Linked DNA regions of Homo sapiens: region 2 is linked to region 1. The links come from fine-mapping of genetic effects on gene expression. Tissue or cell type: whole blood. Region 1 holds a variant in brackets; the other region holds the start of a gene. All regions are shown on one strand. Distances are between the middles of the regions.

What was found. PIP is the estimated chance that this variant, and not a neighbour inherited with it, causes the effect.
Region 2: PABPC4 starts here. The variant in region 1 is fine-mapped to the expression of PABPC4 in whole blood (TOPMed, PIP above 0.99).

What each region holds. Positions count from the first base shown.
Region 1 is chr1:39,466,775-39,474,957 of GRCh38, forward strand. It overlaps MACF1 (microtubule actin crosslinking factor 1), which reads left to right. Exons shown (of 101, transcript NM_001394062.1): 96 at 1,841-1,958; 97 at 2,773-2,841. Among named protein-coding and RNA genes, the nearest start is that of BMP8A, 21 kb to the right of the region's middle. RefSeq lists a silencer at 1,340-1,480. The variant C/T (reference allele first, on the strand shown) is at 4,015.
Region 2 is chr1:39,571,893-39,580,075 of GRCh38, forward strand. PABPC4 (poly(A) binding protein cytoplasmic 4) reads right to left here and starts at 4,898. Exons shown (of 16, transcript NM_001135653.2): 1 at 3,867-4,898; 2 at 501-694. The coding sequence starts at 4,059. It overlaps PABPC4-AS1 (PABPC4 antisense RNA 1), which reads left to right. Exons shown (of 4, transcript NR_125979.1): 3 at 563-786; 4 at 1,189-1,311. RefSeq lists enhancers at 3,583-3,702, 3,723-3,772, 4,273-4,342 and a silencer at 4,843-5,152.

The sequences.
Region 1 (8,183 bases):
GCTGCTACCACACAGTGCTTTTGCTGCAGTCACTTTGTATAAACATGTTTAAATTGTATCAGATGAAAGGTGTGGGACTTCTTTTATTTTCAAAGTAAAGGGCTGGGAGGGAGGATACAGTATTTTTCAATTGCCTTGCCTGTGCAAATACTGCATTTGAGTCAGAGCAGCTAAGGAATATGGAGAATTACCACAAGTATATTAATTTTGAGGGAGGATGGCTATATGACCTCAGATATCCTTTCTTGCATTTTCAATTTTTCTGCCTTGTTTTAAAGTTACAGTTGTCCTTTATAACTTTGAAAATCCTGGCCGGGCGTGGTGGCTTATGCCTGTAATCCCAGCACTTTGGGAGGCCGAGACGGGCAGATCACGAGGTCAGGAGATCGAGACTAACCTGGCTAACACGGTGAAACACCGTCTCTACTAAAAATACAAAAAATTAGCCGGCCTGGTGGCGGGCGCCTGTAGTCCCAGCTACTCGGAAGGCTGAGGCAGGAGAATGGCATGAACCCAGGAGGCGGAGCTTGCAATGAGCCAAGATCGCGCCACTGCACTCCAGCCTAGGCGACAGAACGAGACTCCATCTCAAAAAAAAGAAAAAGAAAAAGAAAATCCTACCAACTCCATACCCGAGGAACCCTTGAATTGAATGATTTTAGGAATTCCATTTCTCCTACCAGATGTTTGTTTGTTTTGGAAACTCTGCATACTTCTCTTTTGTTGCTCCTTACTTCATTTTGGAAAGAGGGTAATTTATGCCATGAGAAACTCCAGATGTTTAGAGCTGGGAAGTAGGAATGTTTGGGCAAGAAAAAAGGGAAAACATAAATAATCAGAAATATGCTTGTTTTAGCATCTAAAATGATTATTGGATACTGTTCATAATCATCATGGGAGCTACAATTTTTAATTGCTTCAACTCAATTTTAGTATAAATATGACCTAATCATTTGTTCAGCTGAAGAAACTTTTCTGCTGGTGACACTGCAATTAGCAAATACTTCGGGTTAATTCCTGAAAACCTGATGCAGAAAATCAGATTTTCTTCTAAGCTTGTAATGATGCTTTGCAAAGGTTTCCTTAAGGCTTGAAATAGTATTCACTATTTTCCATTTAGCTTTAAAGCATACTGTATTCAGAAGTTGATATCCACAATCTTTCTTTTAGGAAAACAAATTAGCATGCCAAGAATATGAATTTTTAATTGAGCAGAATCTCTTTTAAAAAAATAAAGTGACCTAACACTTTGTCTGTTTTCCTACCTCTCCTTTTGGTGCAGAGGCAGTGGTGTGACCATTAAAAGTGATTTTTATCCCAATAGAAAGTATATTGGCCCGGCGCAGTGTCTCATGCCTGTATTCCCAGCCCTTTGGGAGGCCAAGACTGGCGGATCACGAGGTCAGGAGTTCAAGACAGCCTGGCAAACATGTTGAAACCCCGTCTCTACTAACAATACAAAAATTAGCTGGGCGTGATGGCACACGCCTAATAAACCCAGCTACTCGGGAGGCTGAGGCAGGAGAATTGCTTGAACCTGGGAGGCAGAGGTTACAGTAAGCTGAGATCACACTGTTGTACTCCAGCCTGGGCAACAAGAGTGAAACTCTGTCTCACAAAGAAAAAAGTATATCAAGACACCAGTCTTTAGCTTGATATTTCTGCTTTTCTATTTTTAAAATCCTTTTGTGAAATATATAAAAATGCAAAATTGTGAGAGTTAACAATTCTTCTGTAGCTATCAAATTGTCATTCCTGTCTGAATACAGTCTGCTTTGGGAGAAAAACATAGATCTGCTTTAAGACATATATATTAATTAAGTTTCCTTTGATTCTACAGTTTGGGGATTCTCAGCAGTTGCGGCTGGTCCGTATTCTGCGCAGCACCGTGATGGTTCGCGTTGGTGGAGGATGGATGGCCTTGGATGAATTTTTAGTGAAAAATGATCCCTGCCGAGGTAAGGAACCATTCTAAGCATGAATTACGTGTTAGGTATGCCCCCAGCAGTGATCTTTTATGCTTACAGGAAGCATTGATGGTGGGGTCTGTCTGTTTTTTATTTTGTTAAGCTGCCCAGGTGTCATCCCACTAGCACAGATTAGAACTCAGGGGTGCCAGCATAGGCCAGGGAGAAAAAGCTGAAGAGGTTGATGCTATTTGGGGAGGTAGGTCTAGAGGAATGCAGTAATGAGAATTAAGAGTGTATTGGTGTTACTCGAATGTTTGTTTGGGGTATTAAATTAACACTATCCTAGAAAGGAGCCCAGTGAAGCCCTTTAGGTTCCCTCTTAGTGCCTCAGATCCCTTTGCCTGTAATTCCTGTGGCTGATACTCAGGGAGAGTGTTAGGCCCTTCTCATACAGGGAAGAACTGGTGAGCCCCCTGGACCAGGAGGAAGGATAAAGACACCTACATGTGAGCCCATTCACTTCTAAGACAGGTGGCCACCTAAGCAAGACCATGGGGTGTCTTTCTGCTAAATGTGAAAAGGCTGGCCCACCAGCCCAGAAGCATAAGGAGACTGTCAATTTAATATGAGCATGAGTGGTGGCATCTGCAGCTAGGGGGTGTGTGGGGACTGCAACAGGGAAGAGATGACCGGTTCCAATTGCTAAATCCTCTTCAGCTATGTCCTTGCCTTTTTCCTGTTAGCAGAGCTGCATGTGGGTGCACAGGAGGCTCCCCCACTGTCTGCCAATTTGTCTTTCTTGACTAGTTTCTGCGTTTCCTGCCCTGTCTGTTTCTTTCTGTTTACGTATTTTTTATTCTAGTTCACCATCCTGGGAGTAAAATAAAGCGCTCTGATTCCAGCTCTTCGATTTCCAGTCAGTCTCCCATAGGTTGGCTTTTAAGCTTTGTCCCTCTTCCTCACACCCTAGCCCATTGAGAATGGCTTTGCTTCTTAAACTGTAACATCTCTTGGTTCTGTGTATCTGCTGCATTCATGAATGCTTGAAATGGCCAAACCATAGCTTTTCTAACTACTCAAGTTGATGGTGCATAAAATACTGTTGAGACAGTGTCCATGGAATTTGTTTTGAGTTTCTATTTAACAAATACTTATATAGTTTTATGTGCCACACACTATTACAAGTACTTTACAAGTAACACATTTATGCCTCATATGAAGTGTAGATGCTCTTATCTCTGTTTTACAGAATAGGAAATTGAGGCATAGAAAACGTAAATAATTTGCCCAAAGACAAACAACTAGTAAATGGCAGAGATGAGATTCAAATTCAGGGCAATCTGGGTCTGGAGTATGTGCCCCTAGTCAGCATGTTATATCTTTCAGAGGCTGACACACCTTTGTGTATGTTTATTATTGGATCACCTGCATAATTATTAAGGTTTATTTATAAACCTAGCAGAAATGTTTGCTGTACAGTACATAACTTCTTTGGAAATGATTTATAGTCATATTCTGAAGCATTTAGTGAGGACAGAGCTAAAGATAGCAGTTTTCACATGAATTCAGATATGCCCCTAAGTAGTTCCTCTTATTTTAACTCATTCTGTGTTTACTACAGTAAACCAGAGTAAAAATTCAGCAGTAATAATTTTCATTAGAGGTTCCTTTTTTAAAAAAATTGGGGCCAGGTACAGTGGAATCCCAGTACATTGGGAGCCCAAGGCAGGAGGATTGTTGAAGCTCAGAAGTTCAAGACCATCTTTAGCAACATAGTGAAACCCCATCTCCACAAAAAAAAATTTAAAAATTAGCTAAGCATGGTGGTACACACCTGTGTAGTCCTAACTACTCTGGAGGCTGAGGTGGGAGTATTGCTTGAGCCCAGGAGTTCAAAGCTACAGTGAGCCATGATCATGCCACTGCACTCCAGCCTGGGCAACAAGGCAAGACTCTTGTCTACAAAAAAGTAATTTTGAAAACACTTAAAAACTTGAAAGTATTTAGTTTTAGAATTTAAAAGCTGTCTTTTATTGCTTTAATGAGAAACAATATATGCCATTTTAACTTTAACTCAGTAAAACAACTTTATTCCTTTCCAAAT[C/T]TATGAATAAGGTCCTATTTTTCCTGTCATGTATGATCAGACTAAATAAAAGAGATATTGCATGTGGCATTTTGGAATCCTTGATTGCCTGTTTATTTGCTGCCTGCTCTATTTATGATAACATCATGCTGCTGGCCAAGGAGAACACTGCTTGCTTTGTCCTTATCTTAGTATCTAAAATTTGGAACCCCAAGGAAATTGGGGAGGGCCATCTAGAAGCTATTTTCTATGAAAGCTAGTAACCTTTTTTAGCATCCCTTGGAACAAGCAAGGTAAGACTTTCCTGTGTCTCTCCAGGAGTGCTCTCCTGGAACTCAGTAATCATCTCAATCCATTGACTGTGGAGAGAACTCTCCAGAAGTTTTAAATTTCGTAACTCTGTCAGTGATGGGCAGGATGAGCTATTTTTAATCAAATAAAAAATGGTGCTAGGCGATGAACACCTAAGGACTAGGATGGATTATAATAAGTTAGAAGGGTATGAAGGATGAGAAGAGAACAAAGTTACTTGAAACTATATTGGAAGTTCTATAAGGATTAATGTGGCTTCTGGAAACAGTGCTTATGGTAGGTTTTGTACTCATTTATGTTGCATATTTCCTTGGGTCTCTGGAATGTAGAGAATGCTATACTGAGGACAGTACAAGATGTGTGACAAGGTTCTTAACACCAGTGTGCACTATCATTTCTTACCTCCTTTTACACAGCTATTTTAAAAGGTAGAAGATATCTCAAACTGCATGTAGCTTTTAGTCATGTGTAAAAAAATGAAAATATTTTACTAGCTAGATTTGCCAGTCTCCTGGTACTGCCAAAATCAGATATTTCAGTTTCTGAATGTATCCGTGGCACAGGAAATCATGATGTTTTGGATAGAGAGAAAAAAAGTGCTCCTGCCTAAATAATGGGTATACTTGTACCTAAGGTACTGTGTATGTTTTTGATCATTAGACATATTAGCTCCCCCAGATAAGTGAACATCTAGGAAATTTCATTTATGAAGATTTAAAAGACACATTTTGAAATAGAACTCATTTTTTTTTTCAGATTGTTATACAGATAAAATTTACCATCCTAACCATTTTTAAGTACAGGACTAAGTATATTTGTGTCATACTACCGTCACCACCGTCCATCCACAGAACTCTCTTCATCTTGTAAAACTGAAACTCTATACCCATTAAACAATAGCTTAGAACTGAATTTTAACATGCCCGCATCAGCCAGTTTCAGGTGGCCAGCATAACTCCCTTAGCAAAGACAGCCTCTTTGGTGGTCAATGAACTGAACTTGAGGTGGCTGCCGTCATGTCTGGTTCTGTAGGTTCAATGGTAGATCTTTTCTCCAGTGAAAAGAATGGTGAGGGGGAAAATCCTATCACAGTAGTCAACCAAGTACTAGGAATCTTCTCTTTTTTTTAACTTTAGGACTATAATACCCAATTTTGGGAAATATTTGAATCAATGTAAATATTAAGAGTACCTTTACTACTAAATTCAAGTGCTAGTACATAAATTTTGCTTAATCAGAATTTGGTGTTTCCTTCTAGTTCGAGAAAAATGTTTACTTTTTACTTGTGGGATTGCTCCAGAAATCAATTTTCACAGCTTCCAACTGTTTATTGTTTGTTGTCGCCTCCTCCCATCCCAGCCTTTTCTATTATCAAAGTAAAAGTATTAATTGCCCCCTTAACACCTTTTTTAATTCTTAAAATTGGCCGCTTTAAGTTTATTTCTGAAGAAAGAGCTTTCATTTCTTCCAAGTGATATGTATATAAAATGTTCCTTACCAAGAATCGTTTCATTGCCTTGCATCTTCAAATATTTTCTTTTAAAATGCAAATATCCATGGGAGTTGTAGCATATTAAGCTAATATTAGCTAGGCATGGCTTGGGATAAATTAATTATTCATTGGTCTCTTGACCGAGATGAGAGCACCAGAAATGTGGGAATTTTACTATTGTGAGCTTAAGAGCATAAGGACCAAGAAGATGGAAATTACAGAGAGAGGAAGGAAAATAAAAGGGAGAAGACAAGCCTCTAAAGCCCCAATTAAAGTAAGCCATTATTTTTCACTTGAGTTTAGACCTTCTTAATGAGGCCTCATGGAAGCGTGCAGGAGCTAGCTAACCACTGTTTACAGTCTCAGATTGCCTTAATGCCTATGTTGCGTGTCTTTGGCATGGCTGTAGTAACCTGGAAGGATGACGTTAGAGAATTGTTCACACGTCTTTGCATCTCTGGCCAGTGAAATACTATCCCAAGAGGTGACCATTGGCTGGAGATTTCCTTATGAAAACAGAGACTGTCTCATTATGTTTATTTGTTTCGTTATGACGTGTAAGCGTACCCTGAGAAAATTATGAACTGTATTTTCCCAGCATCCTGCATGCACCCAGCTAGGAAAGCAAGTGAGACACCCTTTGGGCCCTCAGCAGTCATTTAATGAGGCGTTACAATGTACCTACCTCATGGTGGCCTCTGGGGCTAACAGGGTCATGATATAGGAGATCAGCATAGGATCCTGTGATAGAATTAAACAGGTCCTCAGATCACAAAATGCAAAGGTTGCTGTTAACATGGGATAATCTTCCTTCTTGTAGTATCTTTCTTATGGAAAGCTATTCTATCTGCTCTTTTAAATTGCTTTAATATTCTATATATAGTAGGTGTTGGCAGTCACAAATTTAACTTTGTGGTTTCAGTCATGAAAATTCATGGATTTGCATTTGTTTCTGCTGTGCAAGAGAGCCGGTCACACAGCGAGAGAGTGAGCCCCACTGGCCACTGACTCCTCACTTTAACACAGCTTGGTGCTTCTGTTCTTCATCCCCGTGAAATAATGAGCACTTCTCAATGGAAGCACTTAGTGAGTTCATGAAGGTTGCGAGATCCATTCCTTGAAACTGTTGAGAGACTTGTTTTCAGAGGCTATTTCAGAGAAACAGAGGCTACTCTGTTTCACACATACTTACTGAAACCCTAAATGCAAGCCTCGCACTGGGATCCAAAGGTAAATTAAGATGATGGTCCCTGCCTGCAGAAGCTCTCAGCCTAGTGCAGGGAACAAACATGTGAATACATGCCCTTCTATTTGGTAAAATGAATGGTTGAGAGAGCAAGAGGGGAAGAGATGACTCTGCCCATGAAGATGGAGAAGGTATCAGGAAAAGGACATAATTGGGCTGGGCATAGTGGCTCACGTGTACAATCCCAACACTTTGGGAGGCCTAGTAGGGAAGATCACTTCAGGCCAAGAATTTAAGACCAGCCTGGGCAACATAGCAAGACCCCATCTCTGTTTTAAAATAAAATACAGGCCGGGTGCAGCAGCTCATGCCTGTAATCCCAGCACTTTGGGAGGCCGAGGCGGGCAGATCATGAGGTCAGGAGTTCAAGACCAGCCGGGCCAATATGGTGAAACGCTGTTTCTACTGAAAATATAAAAAAATTAGCCGGGCATGGTGGCATGACCCTGTTGTCCCAGCTACTCGAGAGGCTGAGGCAGGAGAATCGCTTGAACCCAGGAGGCAGAGGTTGCAGTGAGCCGAGACTATGCCACTGCACTCCGTCCTAGGCAATAGAGGGAGACTCTGTCGCAAAAAATAATAATAAATAAATATATGGCCAGGCACAGTGGCTCACACCTGTAATCCTAGCACTCTGGGAGGCTGAGCCGGGCGGATCACCCGAGGTCAGGAGTTCAAGACCAGCCTGGCCCACATGGTGAAACCCTGTCTCTACTAAAAATACAAAAATTAACGGCCTGGTGGTGTACACATGTAACCCCAGCTACTCGAGAGACTGAGGCAGCAGAATCACTTGAACCGGGGAAGCGGAGGTTGTGGTGAGCTGAGATTGTGCCACTGCACTCCAGCCTGGGCAACAGAACAAGACTCCATCTCAAAAAATAACTAAATAAAAATAAATGTTTGTGTGTGTGTATAAGTGTATGTGTGTATATACTGCGCTCCAGCCTCAGCGACAGAGTGAGACTGTATCTCAAGAAAAAAGGTTTTGAAAAAGGAAAAGGAGGTGTTGCTTCAGCCACATCTTAAAGGAGGTAACACTTGACCAGAAGGAAAAGGGATCTGGATGTTCTTGGTACAGAAACCACAAGTTCATATGAACAGAAGTGTCAACAGCTGAAAAAGTAAGGGGACAAGTAG
Region 2 (8,183 bases), 110 kb after region 1:
ACATTTTAAGAGATCTGGGTGCAAACCACGGTGATGCAGAAAACAAAACATTTTCCAAGGCCACAACAGATTTTCAGTGTAGTATGGCATTAAACATATACACCACCACCGTTTAAGTTTTAAAGTGCTCAGCATAGAACAGATACGTAGAAGGAATAGAGTGAATTTATGCTTCTAAAGTGATTAAGTTTCCTCAAGACTAGAGACACTTCTCTGGTCCTCTACTTTCCCCCATCCCAAAAGAAAAACGTGGGCTTTCCAAAGCTAAAGAATAGGAAGGATATTTCAGGCTGAGTAAAGAACAAGGGTATGAAAGCGTGTGCTGGTTACGCTGGGTATGGCCCTGAGATTACCTATGGGAACTTTTAGGATTCCATGTCCAGCATTTTGAAAATTCCCATATCTTGTTCCCCAATTCCAAGATAGTTCTCTGTTTGGTATTTATCTTGTTTTCAAGAATCAATTAATTATTCTGCTAAAATCATTTAATCAATGTTTACCTTGCAGGACAGTATGTTTCCAAAAGCAGAAAAAGTATCATAAAGTGCCTTGTTATCTATAGATTTGTCCAGGTTCTTGATGAAGACGTTTCCCACACCAGATTTTCTCAAAGAGGGATCCCTCTGAGACCACATGATGCGGATTGGCTTTCCCTTAATCACATCAAAGTTCATGGTGTCCAAAGCCCGCTCAGCTGTAAGAGAGAAACACATTTCAATAAGGAGAGAAAACGTCAGCTCCCACAGGCCAACAGCCTAAGAACAGATTACTCCAGGACTTTTCAAGGTAATCACTCTTGATAAAAGGCAACTCTATTAAAATAAAAGGGCATCAGATTCCTCCAGCCTGCACTGTTAGTAAGGGAAGCATAAGTTCCAGCTAATGACTCTACTTCATGACAGAAGTCTAAACACCCTTCTGGGTCTGTGCCCTTGTTGGATAAAGGGGCCACAAGTAAAGATAATCTAAATGGCCTTAATGACACCAAGATCCAGTGATAATACCTCACATTTGACTAAGCTTTACCACTTAGAAGAGACTTTGCAGACTACCACCCACCATGACTCAGGTGGGACAGCTGAAATTATACATTTTACAAAATGAACAAACTTATGTTTAGGGTAACTAAGCTGTGCAGCTAGCTAGTAATTACGAAACTAATACTAGATTATCTGATTTATTTTTCAGTGAGGTATTGCATCAAAGTTATCAAGTCATTTAGTCTGCAATCCACCTATGGAGACAAGTGACAAAACCTGTAAAGCAAATGATCTGGAAAAAAAAAAAAAGGTGCTATCCCTGAATTCAGAATTCAGTCCAGTTTATTTTCAATTTCTGAGAACAGAAATTGACTTAAACAAAAAAGCATCAGTCATCAAAATGGACACAACTGATCACACATGGAAAAGTTCTCTGTACTATCACAAGGATAAAACCACCATACCTTCTGCCTAAGTAGACAGTGCGCAGATGGCAGGCCCTGCACCCACCTTTTGAAGCCTTAATGGAAGTTCTGTAGAATTCTAGGACTTCAGCTACCCTGGGTGCTCAACCAACTTCCCCATCCAACACCTTGGAATGCTTCCTTAGCTTCCCAACCAAGTCCGTGTGTACACCAGAGACAATTTAAAGAACCAAAGGCTGGGCTGGGTATGGTGGCTCACTCCTGTAATCCCAGCACTTTGGGAGGCCAAGGCGGGTGGATTACCTGAGGTCAGGAGTTCGAGACCAGCCTGACCAACATGGTGAAAACCCCATCTCTACTAAAAATACACAATTAGCTGGGCATGGTGGCGGGTGCCTGTAATCCCAGCTACTCAGGAGACTGAGGCAGGAAAATTGTTTGGACCCAGGAGTCAGAGGTTGCAGTGAGCTGAGATCGCGCCATTGCACTCCAGCCTGGGCAGCAAGAGTGAAACAGTGTCTCAAAACAAACAACAACAAAAAGAACCAAAAGCTAAAAAATAACACCACCTGCCAGCCAAAACACTTCTCATCACTAATCGCAACAAGGATGCCCAGATCTGGTGGCCACTTTTCCTTAAGGCTATGATGGCATCTCCTAACGGTGACATCACCCAGAACCTCCTCCATGAGGGGATTTAGACAGGGTCAGAGCAGTGGAACCTGCTCCTTGCCTCAGGACAACATCTCACTTAAAGGGGGGACAAAATTCCCCAACTCTGCCGCTCCACAAGCTCAACTGTTTCATTAGCCGGGAGAATTTATTTTCACTCATTATTTCCAACAACTTTCCCCACCCCCTTCAGAAGGTGGGCCTCATCTGTGTGGGGGGTAGTTGGGAAAAGGGGAGATGACAAGACCGATCCAAGTCAGGAACAGTCCAGGGAAAGAGGACTTTGCTTGTGATGGCTATCAGAGATAGATAGCTGGGATCGCAAACTATTTCATTAATTAGCAGTAAAGGAGCCCACTTCAACAACAGCTCCTCGTCTATTTCCAGACAGCACTGCACAAGGCAAGCCGGCTTAGTCTGACAAATCTGGCTGCACTTATTTATAGCAGGGAGAAGTCCTGCAGAAGTATGTGTTGGCAGACACACTGACCAATAGCTTCTGCTATCTCTAAGTGACACGACTTTTGTTCAAAAGTCAGTAAGGCAGACAACAGCTAATGTGGTACATTATCCCTTAAAAAGACCACACTCAGCTACCTTTGCGCTCCTATGGCCATGGACAGAACTCAGCTTGGAGCACACTGGATTGACAGTAGCAATACCTAGTCCCTCTCAACATGTCCAATTCTCTGGTCTCAGCCGCAACCTGGGCAGGTAGTAACTCTGGGCCTCAGACAGAAAACAAAGGGGGGACCCCAAAACTAGGGACCTGGAGATGCTTTGCCATAGAATGGCTTGTTTCTCCCAGTAATGATCTCTGCAGTTGTTCCCTTTTAATCTGGAGTCACGTGCAGCCTCTGATCAGGTTTCCTCTGGCCTCCCTCCTGCCACGCCTGCAGCATACCTCTCTCCATGCTCCACGCTAAGGCCACAATCTGAGGTGGCAGAGCACTGTGCTGGGAGTCCTAACTTGGCTTCCAACTTTTTGCATTCGTTCTCCTTCTCAGGAGTCCCATTTTCTTCAGATTAGATGAAATAAAAGGGCTCTGACTAGTGCAAAGCACTGTTACAGCTGAGGTGACAAATGACACCAGATTTTCAAGTGACGCTTCCCTAAACTACCTCCACGACACTCTACAGCACAGAGCCTGGATACCATTTGTCCAGAGTAAAGCACTTCTCCACTCCAGTGGCAAACACACAGACCAAGGAGGTGGCCTGGCACACGCAGCTTTTGTGGCACTAACCTAAGTCTCTGCGAAAGTTTAACGCACAGAAACCTTCCCCCTGCTTCCTGCCTGCCCTGACTGATCCTTTATCAGCACAACATCAGGTAGTCAAGGTTAGTAAAGGTGGCGGAGCGGGCAGGAGCTTTACAATGTAAAACTTTCGCGGGGAATTGTGTTTCAAACGTCCCGCCTTTTTGGCCAGCCTGTGAGGGGCACAAGCAAGGATCTCTAACAGCCCAGCCCCACTGACAAGGACCACACGCAGTGGAATGCCAGTGGCTTCACTCTAATCCTGTTTTACAGTCTCCTTGGTTTCCAACCCCACTACCAGCAACACTAATAAGTAGCCCAAGGTCACCCAGTTAGCAAGTGGTAGAAACAAGATTGAAACTCGAGTCATCTGATGCCAGGTCCGCGTTCTCAATCTCCGCACCCTGCTCCCAGCTTCGGTGGCAACATGCTGTCGTGATGCCGCCCTCCTCGGCAGGAGGGCCCTGCCAGAAGACGACTCCCGGGGTCCTCCGGGCTCCCACGCACGTGTGGGCACAGCTTCTACTCACCGTCGGCCGGCTGCTGGAAGTTGACGTAGGCATAGCCCAGGGAGCGGCGGGTGATCATATCGCGGCAGACCCGGATGGACAGCACAGGCCCCGCGGGGCTGAACTTTTCGTACAGCATGGCCTCGGTGACGTCCGAATGCAGGTCGCCCACGTACAGGGAGGCCATGGGGTAGCTGCTGGCCGCAGCGTTCATCTCCCCGCCCCCCACCACCCCGAGCCCCGCCAGGAGGACTTCTTATCGGGCCCGCCGCAGGACAAAGGGGCGCCTTCGGAGCCCGGGCCCGCGCCGCGGCTCACAGGTGGCACCGGCGCGGCGAGGACGAGCTGGAGTCGGCGGGCTTGGAGACGGGACGGAAACGGGAGGCGGGGGCCGGCTCCCACGGCCGCAGCACCGCAGACAAAAGGCTCTCCGCACAATACGGCCCTCCCCGCGACTTTGCACTTCTCCGCGGTCCTGGTGCGAAGCTCCAAATTTCAAAAAATCAAAGTAGGAAAAAAATTAAACGGGGAATCCCCTTCCGAAGGGTAAAAATCCTTTAAGAGGCGACCGGACGCTGCCCACGGCGGCCTCGGGGACACGCGTTTCTCTATAAATATAGGCCTCGGGCTCCGGCGGTTTAAGATTACAACCGCCGGGGCAGAGGGAAACCAAATCTTTGTGGGCGCCGACTCGGCGAGCCCCGGGCGGGCGGCGAAGGGCAGCACGGACACGTGGTGCGCCGGGGCAGGCGCGGGGCGCGGGGCTCGGGGCCCGAGCGGGGGGAGGGCACGGCGGGCCGGGCGGGCGGCTCACCCCCGGACCGACGGACGGAGACCGACGGACGCCAAGCGCTGCGGCGGCGGGCGCGGGGCAGGCCGGAAGCGTACGAAAGTGACTTCCCCGCGGGTTCTCCGAGGATTCGTTTTTTCTTTTCCTTTTTTTTTTTCAGGATTTTGAAGCGTTTTCAGATTTTTTTTATCTTTTTCTCTTTTTTTCCTCAGGCTGCGAAGCCCGAAAGCGGCGGAGGCGGCAGCGACCCGGGGCGGAGAGAGGCGGCCGAGGGAGCCACCGCTCCATTTATACCCGCCCGCCCCGGGCGCTGCTGGTCGAAGGGCGCCTCGCGACCTGGGCGCAGTCGTGCCCGCCCACTCGGCCCGGGGGCCCGAGGCGGGGCGGCCACGCGAGAGCGACCCGGCGCGGCCGCGCGGCGCTACAGCGACCCCTGGCGCCGGGAGGACCGCCCAGCTCGCGGCTGCGGGAGACCCCAGGGCCCCTTTCTATAACAAATAAATCTTAACACCCTCCCACCCATCACCCGGGAATGGAACCTAGGAGCCATTTAACCTGCACACACGCATGAGGTTTAAAATTAAATGGTATGGGGCTGGGTGCAGTGGCTCACGCCTGTAATCCCAGCACTTTGGGAGGCCGAGGCGGATGGATCATGGAGGTCAGGAGATCGAGACCATCCTGGCTAACGCGGTGAAACCCCGTCTCTACTAAAAATACAAAACATTAGCCGGGCGTGGTGGCATGCGCCTGTAGTCCTAGCTACTCGGGAGGCTGAGCAGGAGAATAGCTTGAACCCGGGAGGCGGAGGTCGCGGTGAGCCAAGATCGTGCCACTGCACTCCATCCAGCCTGGGCAACAGAGTGAGACTCCCTCTCAAAAAAAAAAAAATTAAATGGTATGCCAAATTGTGAAATGAAGGTGACATAAAATAAGTTAAAATAAAATAATAGGTGGTCCAATAGGTAAATGTCTGGGTCCAAATACAATAAAGATTTGAGAAGTTTTCAGGATACCGTTGACCTAGAGGTAGAATCGTCAGGAACTAGAAATGCAAGCAGTATCCATGGGTGATGGGATTTTCTGAAAAGATGAGCACATTTTGGTAAAGCTTCAATGAAACCAAACACAAGCATCCCCTCTATTGACATGCTGGTGGCATTCCCGGACATTTAGTTTGTGTTTAAGGGCACAGAAATACTTTCTGTTCCTATGTTTAAAGTTTCTTCTAGGCTTGGATAATTATAAAAAGACTTTTCATCTGCATGAGAGTCTGGCAGGTCATTTGAAAGTCGTATCACAGGCCAGGCGTGGTGGCTCACGCCTGTAATCCCAGCACTTTGGGAGGCCGAGGCGGGCGGATCACTGAGGTCGAGAGTTCGAGACCAGCATGACCAACATGAAGAAACCCCCGTCTCTCCTAAAAATACAAAAAGTAGCCAGACATGGGGGTGCATGCCTGTAATCCCAGCTACTCAGGCGGCTAAAGCAGAAGAATCGCTTGAACCCGGCAGGCAGAGGTTGTGGTGAGCTGAGATCATGCCATTGCACTCTAGCCTGGGCAACAAGAGCGAAACTCCGTCTCAAAAAAAAAAAAGTCATATCACTTTATAGGACTATGTTATATGGGACTGTCCACACGCATTACAAGATATATAGCATCCCTTCTTCCATAAGTGCCAGGAACCACCTTTGCCATCACTGTGAAAACCAAAAACAGAAATTGCCAAAAGACACAGACATCCCCCTTCAAAAGCACTGATTTAAGTAAATGACTAAAGAAATATGTGTATTTATATATTAATTAATTCAAATAAATGGTTAATCTGAGCCTACTCTATGCCAATGTCAATACAGGGGCTGGAGATACCATGGTGGACCAGAAGTCACTCCCTCTCTCATGGAGTTTATATTCTAATAACTATATTAAATCAAGAAACATTGGCTGGGCACGATGGCTCACACCTGTAATCCCAGCACTTTGGCAGGCTGAGGTGAGCGGATCACCTGAGGTCAGGAGTTCGAGACCAGCCTGGCCAACATGGTGAAACCCCATCTCTACTAAAAATACAAAATTAGCCGGGCATGATGGCACGTGCCTATAGTCCCAGCTACTTGGAAGGCTGAGGCAGGAGAATCGCTGGAACCCAGGAGGCAGCGGTTGCAGTAAGCTGAGATCATGCTACTGCACTCCAGCCTGGGTGACAGAGCGAGACTCCGTCTCAAAAAAAAAGGAACATTTATGGGAGTGCTCCTTCTATAGATTCCCTCCTCAGGAAAGTCTTCCTAGACCTCCTGTGGTCTAAAGTAGCCGTCAACATTGTTAATCACTATCACACCAACTTGTCTTCTTGTCTTCAAGCCTGTTATTCCTACCCAAAATTATGTTGTTCTATATCTGTTTACCTGTTTAGTATCTATCTTTTCCACATTGGTATATAAGCTTCATGAGAACAGGAATCTAGAATAGTGCTTAACATAGCACGTACTAAATGTTCAGTAACTGGCCAGGCAGGTGGCTCACACCTATACTCTCAGTGCTTTGGGAGGCTGAGGCAGGAGGATCGCTTGAGCCCAGACATTTGAAACCAGCCTGGGCAACAGAGTGAGACCCTATCTCTACAAAAAAAAATTTTCTTTTAATTGGCTGGGTGTGGGGACACATGCCTGTGGTCTCAGCTACTTGGGAGTCTGAGGTAGGAGGATCGCTTGAGGCCAGGAGTTGAAGGCTGTAGTGAGCTATGATCATGTCGCTGCACTCCAGGCTGAGCAACAGAGTGAGACTCTGTTACTAAAAAATAAATAGATAAATAAATATTCAATATATGTTTGTGTGTGTGTGTGTGTGTGTGTGTGTGTGTGTGTGTGTTTTCTTGTTTTTTTTGTGGGGGGGGTATGAAATCTTCCTCTGTCACCGAGGCTGGAGTGCAGTGGTGCAGTCTCGGCTCACTGCAACCTCTGCCTCCCAGGTTCAAGCAATTCTCATGCCTCAGCCTCCCAAGTAGCTGGGATTGCAGGCATGCGCCACCACACCTGGCTATTTTTTTTTTTGAAACCAACTCTCGCTCTATTGGCAGGCTGGAGTGCAGTACTGCGATCTAGGCTCACTGCAACTTCCGCCTCCCGGATTCAAGCAATTCTCCTGCCTCAGCCTCCCGAGTAGCTGGGACTACAGGTGCGTGCCACCACACCTGGCTAATTTTTGTATTTTTAGTAGAGATGGGGTTTCACCATGTTGGCCAGGATGGTCTCAATCTCTTGACCTTGTAATCTGCCCGCCTCGGCCTCCCAAAGTGCTGGGATTACAGGGGTGAGCCACCACGCCCAGCCTTTTTTTTTTTTTTTTTTTTTTTGAGACAGAGACTTGCTCTGTCACCCAGGCTGGAGTGCAGTGGCGTGATGTCGGCTCACTGCAACCGCCACCTCCCGGATTCAAGTGATTCTCCTGCCTCAGCCTCCCAAGTAGCTGGAATTACAGGCACCCACCACTATGCCCAGCTACTTTTTGTATTTTCAGTAGAGATGGGATTTCACCATGTTGCCCAGGC